Regions from separate parts of the Homo sapiens genome. Here region 2 is linked to region 1. Evidence: fine-mapped expression QTL. Tissue or cell type: thyroid. Region 1 holds a variant in brackets; the other region holds the start of a gene. All regions are shown on one strand. Distances are between the middles of the regions.

What was found. PIP is the estimated chance that this variant, and not a neighbour inherited with it, causes the effect.
Region 2: HNRNPM starts here. The variant in region 1 is fine-mapped to the expression of HNRNPM in thyroid (GTEx, PIP above 0.99). The same link has a PIP of 0.9 or more in breast, pancreas, prostate, stomach, subcutaneous fat and sun-exposed skin.

What each region holds. Positions count from the first base shown.
Region 1 is chr19:8,465,057-8,467,960 of GRCh38, reverse strand. HNRNPM (heterogeneous nuclear ribonucleoprotein M) reads right to left here. Exons shown (of 16, transcript NM_005968.5): 6 at 2,446-2,637; 7 at 1,573-1,726; 8 at 377-426. Among named protein-coding and RNA genes, the nearest start is that of HNRNPM, 22 kb to the right of the region's middle. The variant C/GAATACACACAGTC (reference allele first, on the strand shown) is at 1,489.
Region 2 is chr19:8,443,430-8,446,333 of GRCh38, reverse strand. It overlaps HNRNPM (heterogeneous nuclear ribonucleoprotein M), which reads right to left and starts at 1,359. Exons shown (of 16, transcript NM_005968.5): 1 at 1,223-1,359. The coding sequence starts at 1,335. RefSeq lists silencers at 851-1,080, 1,321-1,600.

The sequences.
Region 1 (2,904 bases):
CTGCCTCCCACGTTCAAGTGATTCTCCTGCCTCAGCCTCCCGAGTAGCTGGACTACAGGCGCGTGCCACCACGCCCGGCTAATTTTTGTATTTTTAGTAGAGACGGAGGAGTTCCACCACGTTGGTCAGGCTGGTGTCGAACTGCTGACCTCATGATCCGCCTGCCTCAGACTCCCAAAGTGCTGGGATTACAGGCGTGAACCACCACGCCTGACCAGCAAAATGTTATTTCTCTCACAATTTTGCTCAACATACTGCACCCTATTTAACTTAGACTAATCCACAAATATTTCATAGTGGCTATATGTACACTCTTATTAATTCCATGTTTTTGCTAGACTTGAGTATATCACAGAGAAAGATCCTACTGACTTACCATCTTGACGTGCATTGGTCTATCAAATAGCAGCTGGCCATTGAACATAGCTGGTATTACAATTAAGGCTATTTCTTGCAATTCTAAAAATGTGCACAAGAGAAATACAAAAAGAAAGAAAAATACTCCAACTGCTACCAGTCCCTCTAAGTGATGAATTTATGAGCAATTTCAATTCTTCATTATACTTTCAACAATAAACATAAAAGGAACAATAAATAAAGCTGGCGGGGAGGACAAGACAACTTCCGCTTATTCCTTAGGTGTGAAGCTTCATTCGTAACCTTACAATTTCACCAAACCATCCTCTTAAGCAGTGGCATCAAGGTTCTCTGAATGTGACCAATGGGCCAGGCATCTACCACTATCTAAACTGAAGGACCATGTTTTCTGGGTAAGACATGCAGTGACGGTCTTGTCTGAGTTGTATGAATGTGCTCCTGTGGGGTACTCTCCAAGGGATTAAAAACTCTAGGCTAAGCCTAGGGTCAAGGAGAAGTGGCCTCTTCCAAAATGATGTCTACTCACTGGAAAGAGTGAGGTCCTATAAGGATGTATTACACATGAAACAACAACCCCACTTTCTCTCTAGTAGCACATTCTTTGGACTTCCTCCTTCAAACCTAGACTCTTCTGAAAAGAAAACAGTAGAAAGACTCATGGGCATATGCCCATGTTGTAACCATCCCCTCTATCCACACTGTATTGAATCAATTCCACCCCCAGAGAACCTTTTTTTTTTTTTTTTTTTTTTTTGAGACTGAGTCTCACTCTATCACCCAGGCTGGTGGTGTGCAGTGGCGCAATCTCGGCTCACTGCAACCTCCACCTCCCGGGTTCAAGCGATTCTTGTGCCTCAGCCTCCCGAGTAGCTGGGATTACAGGCACCCACCACTGCGCCCAGCTAATTTTTGCATTTTTTAGTAGAGCCGGGGTTTCACCATGTTGGCCAGGCTGGTCTCGAACTGACCTCAAGTGATCCGCCCGCCTTGGCCTCCCGAAGTGCTGGGATTACAGGCGTGAGCCACCGTGACCGGTCCGGCCCAGAGAACCTCTTAATTCCACAGTAATGCACTCCCCCTAGTCACATAAAAAACATGAATACACACAGT[C/GAATACACACAGTC]ACCTCTTCCTCACACAAACCTACATTACTAACACAGCAATTTAGGTCAAACTGTTCATAAGTTGAATTCCTGCAGAAGGATACATATAGCTTGCACAGCTTCAATGGACTGTTCAAAAGTAACAGTGCCTATTCCACGACTTTTTCCATCTTTATCTTCAAGAATGTCTGCTCGGACCACCACACCAGCCATACTAAATACTTCCTTCAGTTTCTTCCAGCCAACTTTATAATCCAGCTAATCGAGAGAGAACGGGGTAAAAACCTCAATGTAAACATCTTAAGAAACACAACATTTTTACTACATGAATGATACATGCTTTGGTTGGAAAAAAGTATTAGGAAATAATGTCACAAAAACTAATCAACTGCAATGGAAATTTTAAAATAGGATTATAAAGCCTGGCCTTCACTGTAAATAAACTGTACCTATAGTAAATATATTGTCTCTTTTCTCAGAAACTTAAGTCACCTCATACTTCAAATTAATACTCATTTTCTGAACATTTTTAAAAAATTGTTTCCCTGATAAGCTTTACCACTCCCCACCCCACCCAACCTACTTTATTCTAAAAATATTTCCCCTTGCAGATGGTGGAGGTATTATCATTCACCCCAGACACAACAAGAGGAAGGTGTCAGTGCACTTCTGCTCGTACAGTCTTACTCTGCACCAAAACTGCATAAAATAAACCAACGGAGAATGCAGACTCGGTTACTGCTTGCGGAAACACCTGCGAAACTCAGGAATCACAGCCCCAACGAGACCACGGTCAAGCCTGTGACTTAGGAATGCAGACAAAGCCCGCCTATAAGGCTGATTTTTAAAGAAATCAAGAACAAAACCCTTCTTTACATTTTTCTTCTCAAATGTGAGAATTACTTTTATAACATATTGACAAGGTCATTTCATAAAGTTCTGATTTTCTACTTTAGACGATGGTTCTGTTTACTTACATTTGCTACAAATACTGTGCTTCCAAGTCTTCCAGCCTGTAATGCATGGATAATCTCATTTGGGATGTTGGGATTATTTAGGATACTGGGTGGGATAGTAATCATTCCTGGGCCACCTGGTCCCATACCCATCCCACCAGTCGTAGCCATCACCTTTTGCATTGCTCTCCTGGCATGTTCACCATCAGGATCCTAAAACAAGCACAAAAGGTGTTACGTTTAACTGACCCAGTACAACGCAAACCATGCTTGCACAGTAAATGATATTCTCAAGACTTAGAAACTGAAAGGTTGTTTGGAAAGCATCTCTCAAATCTATTAACAAGAAAGTCAAATGAACTCAACTACCAGCTTAGAAGAGTCCAGCTAAAGAAATAGGAAAGGAAGAAAAGGCATGAAGTGTAGCACTAAAAACACAGCTCTCAATTGCACTAAGTAAAAAAGAAAAGCAGGGTAGGG
Region 2 (2,904 bases), 22 kb after region 1:
CACAGACAGAAAGGAAAGAAAACGGAGGGAGTTAGTATTTAATAGCTACACTTTCTGTTTCCGATGATGAAAAAGTTCTGGACATGAAGCAGTGACGGTTACAGCACACTGAGTCAGTATACTCAATGCCACTGAATTATACGCTTAAAAAATGGTTAAAATGGCAAAGTCTACGTTATGTCTATTTTACCACAATGAAATAAATGTCTGGGAAATTCAATGTGTACCCAGGCTTCCCCTTCCTTCCCGGCCGCTGATCTTGGAGCCAAAACCTCTCTGTCTCTCTTAAGTGTCTGTAATCAGAATGAATGAGTTTCACCGGGGCACAAGTCGATGCTTCCTCCTTTAAAGAAACTTTTAAAAGCCAAGGAGTCAAAGAGCCCCAAGCAGGACTCGAAAAGCTGATGAAGTCTGGAAGTAAATGAACCCGCCTCCTGACAGAACAGCTTCCCCGAAACACGGGAAAAAGGGGATTCCTCCCCCGACTTCGTATCTGTCTGCTTCCGAGGGTGAACGCTAAGCAGCAGATCCCATCTCTCCACTAATACCTGCGGCGCACCCGGGGAGGAGGAGCGGGAAACGGCGAGGGACTTGAGCCAGGGCCAGAGCGTGGGGCGAGGGGCGGTTCCGAGGGAGGCACTTCCCGCGGAGCGCGGTCGGCGCGCGGGGACTAAGGGGCGGGGCAGGAGGGGAGCCCCCCGACCCGGCTTCGCGGCCCTTCCTGACGCTTCCCTCGCTCGGTTACCGTTGACTCGGGCTGACTGCGCGCGAGGCCTCCCGGGCGCGCACCCTCTCTCCTCCCCCCACGTTACGGATCAGAAAACAGACCCCGGGAGGAGAGGGGACGGGGGGCTGAAACCCGGCCCCCGAGGTCACCCTCCCGGGGAGCGGTCGGGTAGGCCTCGGAGGCTCTCCGGTCCGGGCCCGCGCCATCAACCCCCATGCGCAGCAGCTGGGCCTGAGGCCTCGACTACGGGGTTGGCCCCGGCCTGGAGGGACTGAGGGTGGCGAGGCTCGAGGCCCGGTGTAGGGGACGATTCTGGAGGCTCCCCCGGCTCCCCGCTCACGGCCCTAGACGCCGCTACCCTGAGCAGGCGGTACGGGAACAGCCGGGGCCGAGGCCGCGCCGGGGCTAGGCCGCCAACAGACCTAACGGAGCCGCCGCCCGCGTCGGCCGCGGAGAGGAACCCTTACCCGTGGCAAAGGACCGTGGGATACTCACCCCTTAGGGCCCGGAGCCCCGTTGCCGCTCGGCACGCCGGGCGCGCCGCTCTCTTCCTCCATTTTGATCTCCGTCGCCGCCACCTCCGCCGCCGCTTCGACCCCTGCCGCCATTTTCTCCGCGTCTGGGCTTTGTGTGAGCGAACGGGCTGCACCGCGCTGCGCCTGCGCGCCCACGTGACCCGACGCAACCAGTAACACCTGCGCCCGCCGCTCCCGGCTGCCTCCTTGGCCCCACTCGCCCCGGGCCACGCCCCCGCCGCGCGCAGGCGCAGACCGGCAGCTGTTGATCGCTTCTCTCTCGAGATACACTCGCGTTAGGCACCGACTGGCTGTTCCCGGCGCGCGTCCTCTGAGTCCGATAGAGGAGGCATCTCCCCACCCCACCCCACACAAACACCTAGACCTAGTCACTCTCAGCTTTCTGTAACCAGAGCTGGAGCAGAGGGGAAGCAATGATCCTGTCTAGAGATTCCTGGAAGTTTTAGATGAAGCTTGTTCAACCCGCGGTCCGGCACACGATTCGTAAACTTTCTTAAAACATTGTGTCTTTTTGTGTGATTTTTTTCTTTTTGTAACGCAATTGCGCGGTTCTCCAGCGCGAACTTTGTAGGCAACAACGGAACGGCATGGAATAATATCAGAGTATTATCCGTAATTCGCATTATAATTGCAAACAGTTCGTCCAGAAGAAACGGAAAACTGTTAAAATTCACTAATAATGGGGCCAGGCGCGATGGCTCACTCCTGTAATCCCAGCACTTTGGGTATGGGAGGCCGAGGCGGCGGATCACCTGAGGTCAGGAGTTCGAGACCAGACTGGCCAACATGGTGAAACCGCGTCTCTACTAAAAATAAAAAAATTAGCTGGACGTGGTGGCGGGCGCCTGTAATCCCAGCTACTCGGGAGGCTGAAGCAGGAGAATCGCTTGAACCCAGGAGCCGGAGGTTGCAGTGAGCCGAGATCACGCCACTGCACCGCAGCCTGGGAGATAGACTGAGACTCCATCTCAAAAAACAAAAAGATAAGTATTGAGTACTGGGCTTAATACCTGGGTGATGAAATAATCTGTACAACAAACCTCCATGACAAGTGTTTACCTATTTAACAAACCTTCACATTTACCCCCAAACCTAAAAGTTAAAAACAAAATTAAAAAAAAAATTAATGGCTGGGCGCGGCAGCTCACGCCTGTAATCCTACCACTTTGAGAGGCCAAGGCGGGTGGATCACGAGGTCAAGAGATCAGACCATCCTGGCCAACATGATGAAACCCTGTCTCTACTAAAAATACAAAAATTAGCCGGGTGTGGTGGCAGGCGCCCATAATCCCAGCTACTGGGGAGCCTGAGGCAGGAGAATCGCTTCAACCCAGGAGGAGGAGGTTGCAGTGAGCCAAGATCGGGCCACTGCACTCCAGCCTGGTCACAGAGTGAGACCCCATCTCAAAAAAATTAAAAATAATAATAAAGAGCGAGAGGACTCTTGCAATGTTGCATAAAGTGAACTGTGACAGAATTCAGGGTGTATTCTGTACTAGGCATAATGCTGTATGGTCTTATTTTTGTGTGCATTCGTGGCATCAGTTTTATGGTGCTGTGCAGCCTCCAATGTGCCATTTTCCAAGTGCAGACAGTCGAATTGGCACCATCAGATGTTACGTGTGCTTGTGGCAACTTGGG